2 separate regions of the Homo sapiens genome follow, and region 2 is linked to region 1. Evidence: fine-mapped expression QTL. Tissue or cell type: T cells. Region 1 holds a variant in brackets; the other region holds the start of a gene. All regions are shown on one strand. Distances are from middle to middle.

The links. PIP is the estimated chance that this variant, and not a neighbour inherited with it, causes the effect.
Region 2: USP10 starts here. The variant in region 1 is fine-mapped to the expression of USP10 in T cells (TOPMed, PIP above 0.99).

Annotation. Positions count from the first base shown.
Region 1 is chr16:84,763,421-84,771,644 of GRCh38, reverse strand. It overlaps USP10 (ubiquitin specific peptidase 10), which reads right to left. Exons shown (of 14, transcript NM_005153.3): 10 at 7,382-7,559; 11 at 3,287-3,452. Among named protein-coding and RNA genes, the nearest start is that of CRISPLD2, 52 kb to the left of the region's middle. The variant G/C (reference allele first, on the strand shown) is at 4,715.
Region 2 is chr16:84,696,198-84,704,197 of GRCh38, reverse strand. USP10 (ubiquitin specific peptidase 10) reads right to left here and starts at 4,198. Exons shown (of 14, transcript NM_005153.3): 1 at 4,087-4,198. The coding sequence starts at 4,107. RefSeq lists silencers at 3,627-3,736, 3,777-3,886, 3,897-4,116, 4,207-4,726.

The DNA of each region.
Region 1 (8,224 bases):
CACCTGCCTCAGCCTCCCAAAGTGCTGAGATTACAGGCGTGAGCCACCACGCTAGGCCTAGTATTGACCCATTTTAAAATAACTCTGATAGTATTGATAAAACTGATACCAGTAGGATTAGGTGGGTTTTTTTGTTTGTTTGTTTTTTTAAGACAGGATCTCACTCTGGTTGCCCATGCTGGAGTGCAGTGGCATGATGAGGACTCACTGCAGCCTTGACTTCCTGGGCTCAGGTGATTCTCCCACCTCAGCCTCCCAAGTAGCTGGGACTACAGCCATGAGCCCAGCTGGTCTTGAACTCCTAGACTTAAGCAACCTGCTCGCCTCAGTCTCCCACCGTGCTGGGATTCCAGGCCAATTAGATGTTTTAAATAACCTTTAAAGCTATTTATTCTAATCATGAGTTTTATCAATGTAATCTGTTCCTGAAGTACTTTCACAGGTCTGATGAATGCTGCTTTTAAATAAAGCCAGGTTTTTTGTCACTAAGATGCATCTTTACAAATAACAATCCCTTTATCATTCTCTGTACTTACAAAGTCTTTGATGCTTCCCATATTCATTTGGATAACACTTTTTTTTTTTTTTTTGAGACAGTCTCGCTCTGTCATCGAGGCTGGAGTGCAGTGGTGCGATCTCAGCTCACTGCAACCTCCACCTCCAGGGTTCAAGTGATTCAGCCTCCTGAGAGGCTGGGACTACATGTGCACACCACCATGCCCAGTTAATTTTTGTATTTTTAGTAGAGATGGGGTTTCAACATGTTGGCCAGGATGGTCTCGATCTCTTGACTTTGTGATCCGCCTGCCTCAGCCTCCGAAAATGCTGGGATTACAGGCATCAGCCACTGGAGATTTTTTTTTTTTTTTTTTGGGGACGGAGTCTCGCTCTGTCGCCCAGGCCGGACTGCAGTGGCGCTATCTCGGCTCACTGCAAGCTCCGCCTCCCAGGTTCACGCCATTCTCCTGCCTCAGCCTCCTGAGTAGCTGGGATTACAGGCGCCTGCCACCATGCCCGGCTAACTTTTTGTATTTTTAGTAGAGACGGGGTTTCACCGTGTTAGCCAGGATGGTCTCGATCTCCTGACCTCGTGATCCACCCGCCTTGGCCTCCCAAAGTGCTGGGATTACAGGTGTGAGCCACCTCGCCCAGCCAACTGAGGCTTAATTTCTAATCACTCAACAAAGGCAGACATTTTCTATATAGCAAATATTTCATATAATCCTATTTTCCCCAAAACCTTCACATGTTCCCACAGAAAAATACTTCTGATCTAAAACATAATAAAGTTAAAGGTGGCATTTTAAAAACTTAAAAAAAAACACATTCAAGAAAATATGTAATTTGCTCCTTATAGATACTTCCATACAAGCTGTCCCAAATCTTCCTGAAACATCTGCTGTTGAAAGTGGTCCTGGCCTCATCTGGTAACACACCACCACAACCACGCACCCAGAACGGCTGGCAGCATCCTTTTTATCTTCCGGAGTCCACCAAAATGCCAGCTTTCCTTTATTTTTATTTCTTCTTATGTTTTAGAGACACGGTTTCACTATCGCACAGGCTGGAGTGCAGTGGCGTGATCATAGCTCACTGCAGCCTCCAACTGTTGGGCTCAGGCAATCCTCCTGCCTCAGCCTCCCAAAGTGCTGGGACTAAGGGCGTGAGCCACCACACCTGGCCCGCCTTCTTTCTGGAAGCCTTCATCCAAACCTGCTATTTAGGATAAACCATTCTTTCTTCACTACCGTCTAACAACAGGCTAACAACTACCTGCGCCTCAACCCCTGCCCCCACACCGCCACCCCTACCAGCCCACCCCAGCAAAGTCAAACTGTAATTGCAGCAGAAGCAAAAGAGAAAAACAGACACATCACAAAAGGGTCTTCCCTAGGCAGCCCATGGAAAGGCTGACCACCTCCCCAACAGCATGGGTGGCCAAAGACTCCCATAGCTGGCTCAAGAAACAGCATAAGCAGAGTGCACCAGCAGCCAGGGCCAGGGAGCTATCTCTGGAGTTGCAGCTGCCACAGAAGTGAGCCAAGCCGACAGTCACCCACAATGCACAACTGAACCACCCAACCAACCTCCCCAACACAAATACCACTTTTTCCCTCTCTCTCTTCCACGAGGTCCACCGCCAGACTCTTCTTAGCTCATTCACTGAAGTCAACTACCAAGTTTCTGCCTCTGGCTCCTACTGCTTCTATTTTTTAAACAAAATCACCCATGAGATGCAAGTCTGCAAATACGGTAGAAGATTAGGCATAACTTCTACTGATCCCCCCAGAGCCTGGGTGAACCAGTCCACAGCAGGACACCCCGAAGGTGCTAAGGGTCCCTATGTCCTACTTTGCTCTTTCTGACTCAGAGCACACAAGATAAGCCAAGGATAGATCCATCCCAGTCATGCAATGTGATGACAGGTCTTCTACGTTGGGGCACCTTATTTTACCTTGTAGCTGCCATCCACTGCCCATTATTCAAATATCGCTTTGCAGGAATGCTATGGACCGTCCATAATTATCAGCCTGCATTCATCTCCCCAGTGCATTTTTATGAATTCACTGCCACAACCTAAGATATATAACAGAGAAGACACTCTCTGCTGCAGAGTACAAAATAGCTATAAGCTGGCACATCTGGACAGCCAGGAACTAATAAGCTCTCACAGGGCAGAATGCTATCCGTCTCGCCCAACTGAGTTGACAAGGACTCCACCAAGCTATAATGTGATACTCTTAAATTCATGAAGACTGAAAGACTCAAGAATCTTACCTTTTCCAGATCAAATCAAAGAGTAACAAGCATCAGAACAATGACTATATTATATTTACAATGACTATATTATATTTACAATGACCTGGAAGATCTACAATCAAATGCAAAACAGATGTGTCTGGAATCTCTCTGACATCCTAACTAATCTAATGACAGTTGTACCCTACGGTATCATGAACATAAATAAGCTATTTGGCCTCTGTCAGAGGTAGTATTGATGTTGTGATATCATCATTAGATTGCCAGAAAATTAAATGTAGCTCAAGATAAACAATCCAAAAGGAGATCATTACCTTGTGTAATATGATTTAGAGCTAAAAGAGGCCCTTGGGATCACGTTTCAACCATTTCATTGTAAAACCATAAAAACTTTCAGTACAAAATGGTTAAGCAACTGATTTAAGAGGCATAACTCAAACCCATTTCCCCTCATTCCTAATTTTGTGTTCTTTCCACCAAACCAGAGCACCTTAGTAGAAAGGTTCAAAATCAAGTGTGAACATACCTCTTGTTTGGTTTTTGTGGTATAACCTTGGACAGATTCTCTTGCCACCAAGCTCTCCAGTGCATCCTGGACTGTGCGTATCTTGTCTGACTGGATATCCAACTGCAACGTGAAAAATGGCTGCAAAGTGGCAGATTCTTTTGAACTCTGCTGGTAAACCACAGACCTAAGAATTGAAAGCAAAAACAAAAAAATTAAGAGACCACTCCTTGCCACTTTCCCTTAAGATTAACCAAGGGAATAAACACTGAAAATAAGATTATTCAATATCACTTTCAAAAGACCACAGAGAAAAGCCAAAAATATACTGAATTTAAAAATAATTCTGCTGAAGATGTGCTTTGTTAAACAGATGCTTGAAGGCAGCATGCTCGTTAAGAGTCATCACCAATCCCTGATCTCAAGTAATCAGGGACACAAACACTGCGGAAGGCCGCAGGGTCCTCTGCCTAGGAAAACCAGAGACCTTTGTTCACTTGTTTGTCTGCTGACCTTCCCTCCACTATTGTCCCATGACCCTGCCAAATCCCCCTCTGTGAGAAACACCCAAGAATTATCAATAAAAAAATAAATTAAAAAAAATAATAATAATTCTGCTGAATAGCACCTCCTTAGTATTTCTAACAACTAAATCTACCAGTTGATAAATGTTCCCAACGCCAGTGCTCTGGAAGAAAACATATTTCATTTTCCAAATTCTTTCACTTCCTCTCCACACTGTTATTTACTGCACCGGTTCATAAAGGCAGCCACCCTGCCATGGCCTCAAAACGCTGCTGCTTTCCATTTTCTCCAAGTATCATAGCCTGTTCTAATAAAATAGAGGAAATCCCAAGGTAAATAGAGGATTTTTAATGGCATTTTCCTCCTATAAAGATGTCTTACAAAAAGAAGAAGGGGAGTAGGGTGTGTAGAATAAAAAACAAGTTAACATTCCAGGAAAAAAGGCTGCCACCCTTCCAAGAAGGGCGCCAATTTGACCTTGTTTTCTTAGCTGGTTTTTCATTTCATTTTTTTTTTCCTTTTTCTAAGTTTTTCTGAGTAAAAATTGTGTGTTCGGCCCATCTCTCATTTAGCCTCAGCAAGGAAACATTCCAGGGGTTCAACAAGGGCTTCTATTTCTGCAGTCTCGGTGACCTAGTTTCTCAACGGAATAAAATGGGTGTGGACAGGTACTCAGGCTTTCCAGAACAGATGCGGTGAAGAGCTCGCTAAAAGCTTTTCTGTCCAGGGTTTAATTACGCATCTCCATGCTCCTTTACAGTTTGAAGACTTCAGTGACAACAGTTCCCCTGGTTCTGGAGAGGGATACAGTAGTGGGGAAACCGCTCATGAGAGCTGGTGGAGAATCAAGAAGCCCTCTTGATTCAGTGGTCCTGTGTTTTAGCAAAGGTGGCACCGGGGAAGAAAGGCGGGGAAGTCTTCCTG[G/C]GGAAACTGAAAAACATCTGAAGAGGCTGAGTTTTAGAAGTAAATCTTTCAATTGGTGTGAATAAAGAATCATGCTTAACAATGGCTGAAAAGAAGTTCCTACGTTGTAAGAATTCCCTATCTTTGCTTTACCGTTTTTCAAAAAGAAACATCAACAACCAATTTCAACACAGAGACCCCTCAGAGGATGTGGCTAGCAGCTGTGACAGAGCTGTTCAATCTGAGCCAGCAAGTCCTCCAAATGGACGCTGGTATTTTCCACTGGTTACTCTTAGACAAATTTGGGATCTTTGAGTATGCTGACCCTCTGTGGCCTTGAAATTCTGATACCCGGCCTCTGCACAAAAACCATGTTCCCGATGCCTCCATTTGAGCTGTCCATTCATCTTTCTCTCCCATCCCGAGGGGGTGTCCTCACAATCCTAAACCAGGCTGCTGGGCTGAAGGAGCAAAGGGCACAGCCTTCCCTCGCTGCTGCGCGCCAACCTGGACCTCAGCGTCTCCCTCCCAACACGACGTGTCCCAAGGAACCACAGACAGTGGTCAGGGCTGGGTGTTTCCCAGGTGACAACTGACCACCCAGCTGCCGTGGACACTCCACAGAGCACCAGAATAGAAAGGGGCCAGTGGAATAGAGCTCACAGTGCAGAACACAGAAGTGACTTGTTCAAGGTCACATGGCTGCTCAACTGGCTTCTAAATCCACTTCCACAGAGGACGGGAAACCAGCTTCTGAGGGCGTCAGCGCAGGTTTCTGAGGTTCTTATTATTCACCTGTTGAAAGTTGTTGATTCAGTCTCAGAACTGAGACTGAATCAAGTCTTGATGCCTCAAAAGGGGTGCTCTTTCTTTCAGGTACGCAGCATTTGGGACAACAACAGACTAAGAGTGTCACTGAAATACCAGCCTGGGGGTTATGCCGCAAGGCCTCAGAAAGGAAATTAGGCTCCAATGAGGCCTCTTCAGTACTTTCGATGGGTAAACCTTCTTGGAGATGGTACAAGTTTTGCTGAATTCCACATCACAGTGGTACTGAAAAGCTCTCAGGTAAATAAAGAAAAACCTTTCCGAAGGACTTTGTGAATGAGCAAAAAGCTGCTTAAGGGAACTGGCACACAGCCAGGTGCCCAGGGACTCCAGCCCAGTCACGGGTCTGTCTGTGTAAAAAAGACCTCCCTTCACACTCTCTTCACTTTCTACCTCACCTGCTTCCAATCAGTTCACAACAGCCAAGACAGGGAAACAACTGTCTGTGGATGGGCCAATGGATAAAGAAACTGTGGTGTGTATATATAGACAAGGGAACACTATTCAGCTGTAATAAAGACCCTGCCATTTGCCACAACAGGAATGAACCTGGGGAACATTATACTAAGTTAAAGAAGTCAGACACAGAAAGAAAAATATTGCATGGTCTCACTTATACATGGAATCTTTATTAAAAAAAAAAAAAAGACGAAACTACAGAGATAGGGAAAAGAGTGGTTCCTAGGGGTGGCGAGTGGGAATGGAAGATGTCGGTCGAAGGACACCAAGGGCAGCCACACAGGCGAACAGGTCTAGAGATCTGATGTGGAACATCGGACAAGAGCTACTCATAGTGCACTGTATTTGGGACTTTTGTGAAATGAGTAAAACTGCAGCTGCTCTTGCCATGTGCACACACACACACACAAGGGTAACTGTGATGGGGAATATGTTTATCTGCTTCACTGTAGCAACTATTTTACTATCTCTATTTCATAACATCTGTGTATACTTTAAATATACACAATTTATTAACATAAATAAAATTCCTCCAGATACACTGTCTTCTCTTACCAAAACACATGGTTTGGTTAGCTGGTTTTTTTTTTTGAAGACAGTCTTGCTCTGTCACCCAGGCTGGAGTGCAGTGGTGTAATCTTGGCTCACTGCAACCTCTGCCTCCCGGAGGTGGTTTTATGTTGCAAGTTTTAAATGCAGATGAAGTCTAATATATATATATATATTTTTTTTTCTCTCTCTCTCGTGGTTATTGTTTATGACCTATCTTATGAAACCTTTGCCTACCCCTAAGTCATGATGACATTCTCCTGTATCTTTTTCTTTTTTTTTTCTTGAGACAGAGTCTCACTCTGTCACCCATGCTGGAGTGCAATGGCGCTATCTGGGCCACTGCAACCTCTGCCTCCTGGGTTCAAGCGATTCTCCTGCCTCAGCCTCCCTAATAGCTGGGATTACAGGTGCCTGTCACCACACCTGGTTGATTTTTGTATTTTTAGTAGAGACGGGGTTTCACCATGTTGATCAGGTTGATCTCGAACTTCTAACCTCAGGTGATCCACCCGCCTTGGCCTCCCAAAGTCCTGGGATTACAGGCATGAACCACCGCGTATGGCCAATTAGCTGGCTTTTCTCTTACTCCCTAGCAGTGAGCAGCTGAACTTGACAGAGTAGAAGGGAGGAGCTCCCTGTCCCCTGCAGACATGCGCCAGCAGGGAGAGAATAAGCCACGGGGGCTGACAAGGGAAGCATCAGGAAGTGCAAGAGAAGAGCAGGCAGGGGAGCAAGATGCAAACCATTACGTCCAAGAAGTCTCAAAACAAGCCTCACACCTTCCCCCTTCACCAACATGGCAAAACCCTAGAAAAGGCAAATATTAAGTTATTCCAGAAAAGCACAAACCTGATGTGTCCACCAAAAATGCCGGTGATTGGAGTCTGAACAAAATCCGCCTGGCGGGTGACGGAAGTCTTGTTCCGGGGGCCCACTTGTTCCCATTCATCCTCGCTTCCTTCACCTTGTTCTTCCTGCTCTTCTTCATTGACCGAGTGGTTTTTGGGGCCGTTGGAAATCGTAAGTTCTGAAAAGGAGAGCATCTGCTTACACTACTATTTACGACAAGAACAGCAAAAAAAAAAAAGGCACAGATCTGTCGATTGCAGTTTTAAAAATGAAATCAGGGTGTGGTCTACATTAGGAGCCACGGCAACCAATCGCAACAGGAGCAACGTCACTGGATCCACGGCCAATCGCAACAGGCACAATGTCACTGGATCCACGGCAACCAATCGCAACAGGTGCAACGTCACTGGATCCATGGCAACCAATCCCAACAGGCACAACGTCACTGGATCCACGGCAACCAATCGCAACAGGTGCAACGTCACTGGATCCACGGCAACCAATCACAACAGGCGCAATGCCACTGGATCCACTGCAACCCATTGCAATGCCACTTGATCCACGGCAACCAATCGCAACAGGTGCACCACCACTGGATCCTTGTTTACATAAACTCCTAGAAATGACATCCCTGGGACAACTGGCGAAATTTGAAGATGCTCTGCAAAGTCGGTATTACCGTGTCATTACAGTTGTTTTTCTCAGTTAGATAAGGGACTGTGGTTACGCAGGAGATGCTTTAGCACCTGAGATGAACTAAACTGTTAGCTGCAACTTAACTTTGAATCATTCAGGGAAAATGTATGCGTATGTATGTATATATGGATGGACAGATAAGACATA
Region 2 (8,000 bases), 67 kb after region 1:
TGAAATTATATCTTTAAAAACAAACAAACAAACAAAAAACCGAAACAAAAACCCTGATGTAACTAATTCAATTGGAGATGATACCACTTTTCTCAATTACTTGAATGTTATATTCTGAGCACAGCACAGTGCAACGTGCCGCTTAGGCTTGGCATTAAACAGCAATCATTAAGCTTCGTAATCCTTTTCTCCTTTAAGTTTTCCTATGTGAATCACTGCTTAAATCCTATCAGTTCCACGTAACAGAACACTGGAATACATGTCCTAACTTTTGCTTTAGTGAGGAATTTAGAATGTGGTAGGCCCGCTTAGTATTCACTGGAATTTCAGTGCGCTGTGCTCTCAATGAGATGGGCTCAAGAGCATGATGGTGAGGTCCTGGTACGGCGCGGCTGCTCAGGCCATCTGTACAAACCACTAAGGCGACCACTGGCTCACAAACTTCTCAGGCCATCTGTACAAACCACTAAGGTGACCACTGGCTCACAAACTTAAAACATCTACTCTTAGGACATGTTTAAATAGCTTGCTGTCACTATGCAAAGGAAAACTGTTATCTCCAAATGCCCTGTCAACATTTCAAACAATTGTATTTACTTCAGCTGCTCATTACTTGAGATTCTAATAAAAATGTATCTCTTTTAAGAATTAACACTAATCCAGCTGTTGGCTAGAAACAGATATTCAGCAATACAGTAACATTCAGCCATATGCTAGAGGGGGAATCCAAGACTTTCCATCATGTAAAATGTGGAGGATCTGCTATTACAAGCTAAAAAAGAGACTGGGGTGAGTCTATGCAGAGACAAGGACAGAAGCCAACTGCATGACATTCAAATTGGGTGTAGGAAGCATTATTGTGGAGATTTCACTATAAATGACATCAATAATCACAAATATTTTTTCGGTGTAAGGCAAAACTAATAGCTTCAAATTAATTACCCCAAATAATTTAACCGGTCCCCTCAGTGACAAGGATATTCACTTGGACCTACACTTCAACTGTTAAAGTTCATTTATTTGTCTTTGCTAAAATGCTGAGTTACCGGTCTCAAAATGTTTCCAAATTCTTCACTATTACACTTCAATACAGGTAACAGGGATCAACCAACACTTTCTAATATTTGGAAATAAGGTTATTAACCTATAAACTTTTTTATTTATTTTGAGATGGAGTTTCGCTCTTTTTTTTTTTTTTTTTTTTGAGACGGGAGTCTTGCTCTGTCGCCCAGGCTGGAGTGCAGTGGCATGATCTCGGCTCACTGCAACCTCCGCCTCCCGGGTTCAAGCGATTCTCCTGCCTCAGCCTCCCAAGTACCTGGGACTACAGGCGAGCTTCACCACACTCGGCTAATTTTTGTATTTTTAGTAGAGACAGGGTCTCACTATATTGGTCAGGCTGATCTCGAACCCCTGACCTCAAGTGATCCACCCACCTGCGCCTCCCAAAGTGCTGGGATTACAGGCACGAGCCACCGCGCTGGCCTGTAAACATTTTTAAACTGTAACTTTTTCCACCTCCCATTATTCTCAGTGACAAATTTAACTTTAACAAGTCAATTTTAAAATAAGACCTTCAATTTGCAGTTGTTATTCCCAACATAAACAAGTAATATACATACCATGACGCTTAATATCTGATAAACAATCAGTATTTGCTGAATGAATGAATGGCCATTAAGGCTGCAAGACTCTTAGGACAGTAGGCAACCAAGTAAAACAAATTTATTAAAACGCTCAGAATGACTGGAGCAGGAACCAGTAACTAAATCCTGTCATACATGATTCCATTACTTGTTTGCATTACTATTCTTTTAAAATGAAAATTATGAGAAATCGGCCAGGCGCAGTAGTGGCTCACGCCTATAATCCCAGCACTTTGAGAGGCCGAGGCGGGTGGATCACCTGAGCTCAGGAGTTTGAGACCAGCCTGATCAACATGGTGAAACCCGTCTTTAATAAAAATACAAAAAATTAGCCAGGCATGGTGGTGGGCGCCTGTAATCCCAGCTACTTGGGAGGCTGAGGCAGGAGAATCGCTTGAACCCGGGAGGCAGAGGTTGCAGTGGGCCGAGATCATGCCACTGCACTCCAGCCTGGGCGACAGAGCAAGACTCCCGTCTCAAAAAAAAAAAAAAAAAAAAAAAAAAAAGAGCGAAACTCCATCTCAAAATAAATAAAAAAGTTTATAGGTTAATAACCACAGCACTCCAGCCTGGGCAACAAGAGCCAAATTCCAACTCAAAAAAAAAAAAAAAAAGAAGAAGAAAATTATGAGAAATCAAACTATTTCCTTTGCTACTTTCTCCATGCTAAAACTTAAAAGCATTTAAATCATACTTTAAAAGAATAAACCCAAAGTGTTGCTAACATTTACGTTCCGCCAACTTTTGCTACTCCAATTTTCTAAAGATGTGTATAACGCTTTAGACTGTTGTATAAAACGTAAATACTGGGACAATGAATGCAAACGAAATTACAATTAAGTTTACATATTATCCATCCCCATTAATTAACATTTCAATCAACCTTGAATTGTGATTGATGCTTATTAAATAAAGGAAGTGAGCTATGCCTAAAGATGCTTTCTTCATGTCAAAATCACAAGGAATATTACACATTAATTCATAATGAGCCTTTTACTTGTTCATACCAATTCTAATAAGCTAGTTAATTAGGATTTAAGTTGAGAAAAAAGCAAATATCAAATCTTTTTTTTTAACAGAAAGGTCTAAACAAAGCTAAATACACCAAATCTCTTAAAATCTTTGGGCTATACATTTGTAAAAATTATTCAACTACTGATCCCTTTTTTGGCGCAAAGACCTACACTACTTACAAAAGTAAATGAATAAGGGAACAAAACGTTAAAGGGGGAAATTCTGATGCAAACTAAACTACAGCTAATTTAACAAAATTGAAGCTTGTCGTAAGATCTAATTTTTTAAAAAGTTTTCGCATTTTAGATTCCACAACACGCATTCATTACAATAGTTCCGAAAATCATGTTTCAAAAGAGGTGTAGTCAGATTGACTTCATCTGCAGAAGGGCAACAAAACCCAATTGCTCATGAAGGGTTATGATTTTACTCGCAATCAGTTTCCCGAATGGCTACTTTGTTTCATTTCCCCATATTTAATACAAATACACAATGAGATGGTTTAAAAGTGTGCAACAATTTATAGGGACCAGATGTCAACAAATTAGCAGTCTAAAGCAAGGCTGACAAATAATACATCATGCCGATTTTTGTCCAGAATAATTATAATGGCGGAGGGGGGAGAAGATGTGAGAGAAGGGGTGGGAGAGGGGAATAAGAGCTTAACTCTACACGCACATCTCCCAAAAAGAGCTCTTTCTTTCCACCACGGGATTATTGTAAAGGGCCCCCAAGCTTTAGCTACTGTTCAGGCAGGGTGCGTTAGTTGTCAGCCTGGCTGGGATGGATTCGTGCAAGGGATGTCACTCAAACGCAAGTGAAAGTACGGTCCTTGCGACTTATTTCGAGTTTTCTTTGCAACAGCAGCCCAAGGCCGCTACTCTGCTACTTCTATCTAAAAAACAGAAAATCGGCAACCCCCGCATCATCAATCAAGCTGAGAAAGGAAGCTCTTGGGGCAAAGGGGCAACAGGGCACCCCCAAATCTCTGAGGCTCGCTCCAGGCAGAGGCAGCAACCTGAGCTGCTCTGGGGCCCCTGCGCTCCAGGGGACTCCCGGAGCCCCCGGGCCGCCTCCCCCGGCCGGCGCGGCGGGGAGGGCCCCACTCCACACCCCGGGCTCGCCCCGCGGTCCAGCCCCAGGGAGGTTAACCCCTTCGGCGCCCTCCACGCCCTCCCCAAGCGGGGCCCGGAGCCCCCGCCCTTCGACCTCCCCGGGACTAGGGGGTCCGGGTGGCTCAGGGGACGAAGGCGCGGCGGGCGCGGAGGCGGCGGGTGGCTCCGGCCTAGGCCCGGGCAGCGTGTCCCAGCGCCCTCCCCCACTCCCACACGCTCGCTCCGGGCAGGGCGCGGACGCCCGCCCGCCGCGGCGTCCGCCCGCCCGGGGCTCGGGCCCCTTCCGGCCGAAGGCGCAGACCGGCGGCTACCTGCGGGCTGTGGAGGGCCATGGCTGCCCGTTTCATTGGGACTCCGCGATCCTCCGGCTGCTCACGCTGCTTCCCCCGCCGCCGCCATCTTCTCGCCCGCACATACACACTCGCATCGGCCGCCGCGCCTGCGCACTGGCCGCGCGCCGCGGGGCGCGGGGAGGCCGGCCCGCTGCTGCGCCTGCGCGGCCGACAGGTGGGCGTGCGCCTGCCGGGCCGCGGACATCCCCTGCCCCGCCTGGAGCCTGCCGGACTCTGAGCCCCGCGACCCTCGGGCGGAAGCGGCCGGGCGGCTGCACACCAGGAGCCCGCCGAGGCCTGGCTGTGGATCCGGAAGGGGAGAGGGCAGGCAGGTAGAGGTGGCAACGCCAAGGCGCCGGCGGGCCCGGCTCCTCACCTACTGGGGGCCACCTGGGCCCCCGGAGCCCGGGAGTCGCGGGCTGAGGTCGGCCTGGGGCCCACGAGCCGCCCTCAGCGTACCTGGGCCCGGGCCTCGGGAGTGTTCGCATTAGATCCCCGAGGAGGGTCTGGTTTATGAAGATCCCGTTGCCGCGCATTCATTCATTTGTTCACTCTTCATTCACTCCCCAAGTCCTGCCTGGGCGCCTGGGCCACGCCTTTGGCTAGGCATTAGGGGAAAAAAGCAAAACAGACAAAAACAAAACGTAGGGCATAAAAGCACGCGTAAAGTGCTTGACATGAGGCCTGGCAAGTAGCAAACACTCAGCAAGTGCTACGTGTTGCACACGTGCGTGCGTGTGCACGGGCAAACCAGCCTTGGGGGTCGTTGGTTCATTCATTATTAAGAAACAGGGGCCCCTGCCTAACTGCACTGTTTTCCAGCCAGTGGGTCCACCCTTGGGTTTTGGCCCCTTTTCTAGCTGTGATTTCAGACAAGCGACTTTCCTTCCCTAAGCCTTGGTTTCCTCACCTGTGAATAAGACAAATATGTCATAACGCGTAAGATTTCTGTGAGGTTCAAATTAGATTAACGTGAGCACACTGGCCAAGAGAATAGTCAATAAAAATTGGCTACTGGGATTGTTATTAATAACCATTACTATTGGTTTCATTTATTCAACAAACACCTACAGAGAGTCTGCTCTTGCTAGACCGTACACTGAGCAGAGGAGATGAACAGGAAGATCCATTCCCACGTTACATAAAATAGGGAGCCTGGTCTCTTCATAAATGGGATGCCATGAAAAATATAAGTGGGCCAGGCGCAGCGGCTCACACCCGGAATCCCACACATTGGGAGGCCGAGGCGGGCGGATCACTTGAAGTCAGGAGTTGGAGACCAGCCTGGCTAATATGATGAAACCCCAACTCTACTAAAAATACAAAAATTGGTGGGATGTAGTGTGGCACACCAGGCGTCCCAGCTACTCAGGAGGCTGAGGTGGGAGGATCACTTGAACCCCGGAGACGGAGGTTGCGGTGAGCCGAGATCGTGCCACTGCACTCCAGCCTGGGTGACAGAGCGAGTCTCTGTCTCAAAAAAAAAAAAAGAAAGAAAGAAAGAAAGAAAAGAAAAGAAAAATATAAGTGGTAGGGAGGGGTTGTTCCAAAATAGAAGAGCTAGAAAACATAACCAAATACAATGTGTCATCTTGCTTGGATCCTGATATGTCTTTTAAGCTGGTTTTACTATTTGTTGACAATTGGAGACATTTGAATATGGATTGGATATGGGTGATCTTCGTGAATTATTGGTAATTTTATAGTGTAATAATTATACTGTGCTCACTGAGAGAATGTCCTTATTGTGAGGAGATGCATTCTGAAGAGTTGAGGAGTGAAGGCCATAATGCCTGTAAACTATTGTTTAATGGTTCAACAAAAGATAAAATCATGTACACACATAAACATTCAGGGAGAGACAGCAAATATGGCAAAATGTTTACTATTGTTGGCTCTAAGTAGTGCTATATATTTCAGCTTTTCTCTATGTTTGAAAATTTTTATAACAAAAAATTGGGGAAAACAATACAATATAGTGTCTGTGCTATAATTTTAACCATGGAAAAGCGATATCTGCACTTGGATAGAAACTGGGGGACGTGAAAACTCACTAGTGATTTATGGTTGTCTCTCTGGCTCGGTGCGGTGGCTCACACCTGTAATCTCAGCACTTTGGAAGGCTGAGGTGGGTGGATCACCTGAGGTCGGGAGTTCAAGACCAGCCTGATCAACATGGTGAAGCCCCGTCTCTACTAAAAATACAAAAATTAGTCGGGCGTGGTGGCAGGCGCCTGTAATCCCAGCTACTCAGGAGGCTGAGGCAGAAGAATCGCTTGAACCCGGGAGGCAGAGGTTGCAGTGAGCCGAGATGGCACCATTGCACTCCAGCCTGGACAACAAGAGTGAAACTCTGTCTCAAAAAAAAAAAAAAAAAAAAACATATATATATATATATATATATATATATATATATATATATATATATAGTTGTTTGTCTGATTTTTATCATACAGTTGCTTGAACAACAAATAAAAGTGATAATAAACAAAAGATCCCAGGCCAGGCACGGTGGCTCACGCCTGTAATCCCAGCACTTTGGGAGGCTGAGGCGGGTGGATCACCTGAGGTCAAAAGTTCGAGACTAGCCTGGCCAACATGGTGAAACCCCGTCTCTACTAAAAATACAAAAATTAGCTGGGCATGGTGGCGGGCACCTGTAATCCCAGCTACCTGGGGGGCCTAGGCAGGAAAATTGCTTGAACCCGGGAGGCGGAGGTTGCAGTGAGCTGAGATCACACCATCTCACTCCAGCCTGGGGGACAAAAGTGAGACTTTGTCTCACAAATAAATAAATATATAAATAAATAAATAAAAAAGATCCCAGTCTTCATTTTCAAATAATTCACATAGATATGAACACATACCTTCAGTACAAGGAAATAGATGTTAAAAGGAAGCTATGAACAAGCACTATGGCCTTCAGTGCTTAGCAGAGCCTGGTGATATACTTCGGCTGTGTCCCCACCCAAATCTCATCTTGGATTGTAATAATCCCCACGTGTCAAGAGTGGGGCCACGTGGTGATAATTGAATCATTGGCGTGGTTTTCCCCATACTGTTCTCATGGTAGTGAGTAAGTCTCACAAGATCTAATGTTTGTGTGTGTGTGTGTGTGTGTGTGTGTGTGTGTGGTTTTTTTGGTTTGTTTGGTTGTTTTTTTGTTTTTGTTTTTGTTTTTGTTTTTGAGACAGTCTTGCTCTGTCGCCCAGGCTGGAGTGCAGTGGCAGGATCTCAGCTCACCGTAACCTCCGCCTTCTGGGTTCAAGTGATTCTCCTGCCTCAGCTTCTGGAGTAGCTGGGACTACAGGCATGTGACACCACGCCCGGCTAATTTTCGTATTTTTAGTAGAGATGGGGTTTCACCATGATGGCCAGGCTGGTCTTGAACTCCTGACCTCAAGTGATCTGCCCACGTCAGCCTCCCAAAGTGCTGGGAATACAGGCGTGAGCCACCACGCCCAGCCTCTAATGGTTTTACAAATGAGAGTTCCCCTGCACAAGCTCTCTTGCCTGCCGCCATGTTAAGCGTGACTTTGCTCCTCATTTGCCTTCCGCCATGATTGTGAGGCCTCCCTTGCCATGTGGAACTGTGAGTCAATTAAACCTCTTTGCTTTATAAATTACCTAGCTTGGGTATGTATGTCTTTATTAGCAGCATGACAACCGACTAATACACCTGGTATCTCCCATGAGTCTGGGGACAGTGGCCTAGGCCTGGAGTCAAGACAGGCCCAAGTTCAAATCTGGAATCCCCCACTCACTAGCTGTGTGAACCTGGGCAAGTTACCTACATTTTCTGTGAATCTTTTGTAGAAGGTGGTGTGATGGGCAGAATAATGCCCCTCCCCTCAAAGATGTCCATGCCCCAACCTCAGAACCTGTGGATATAT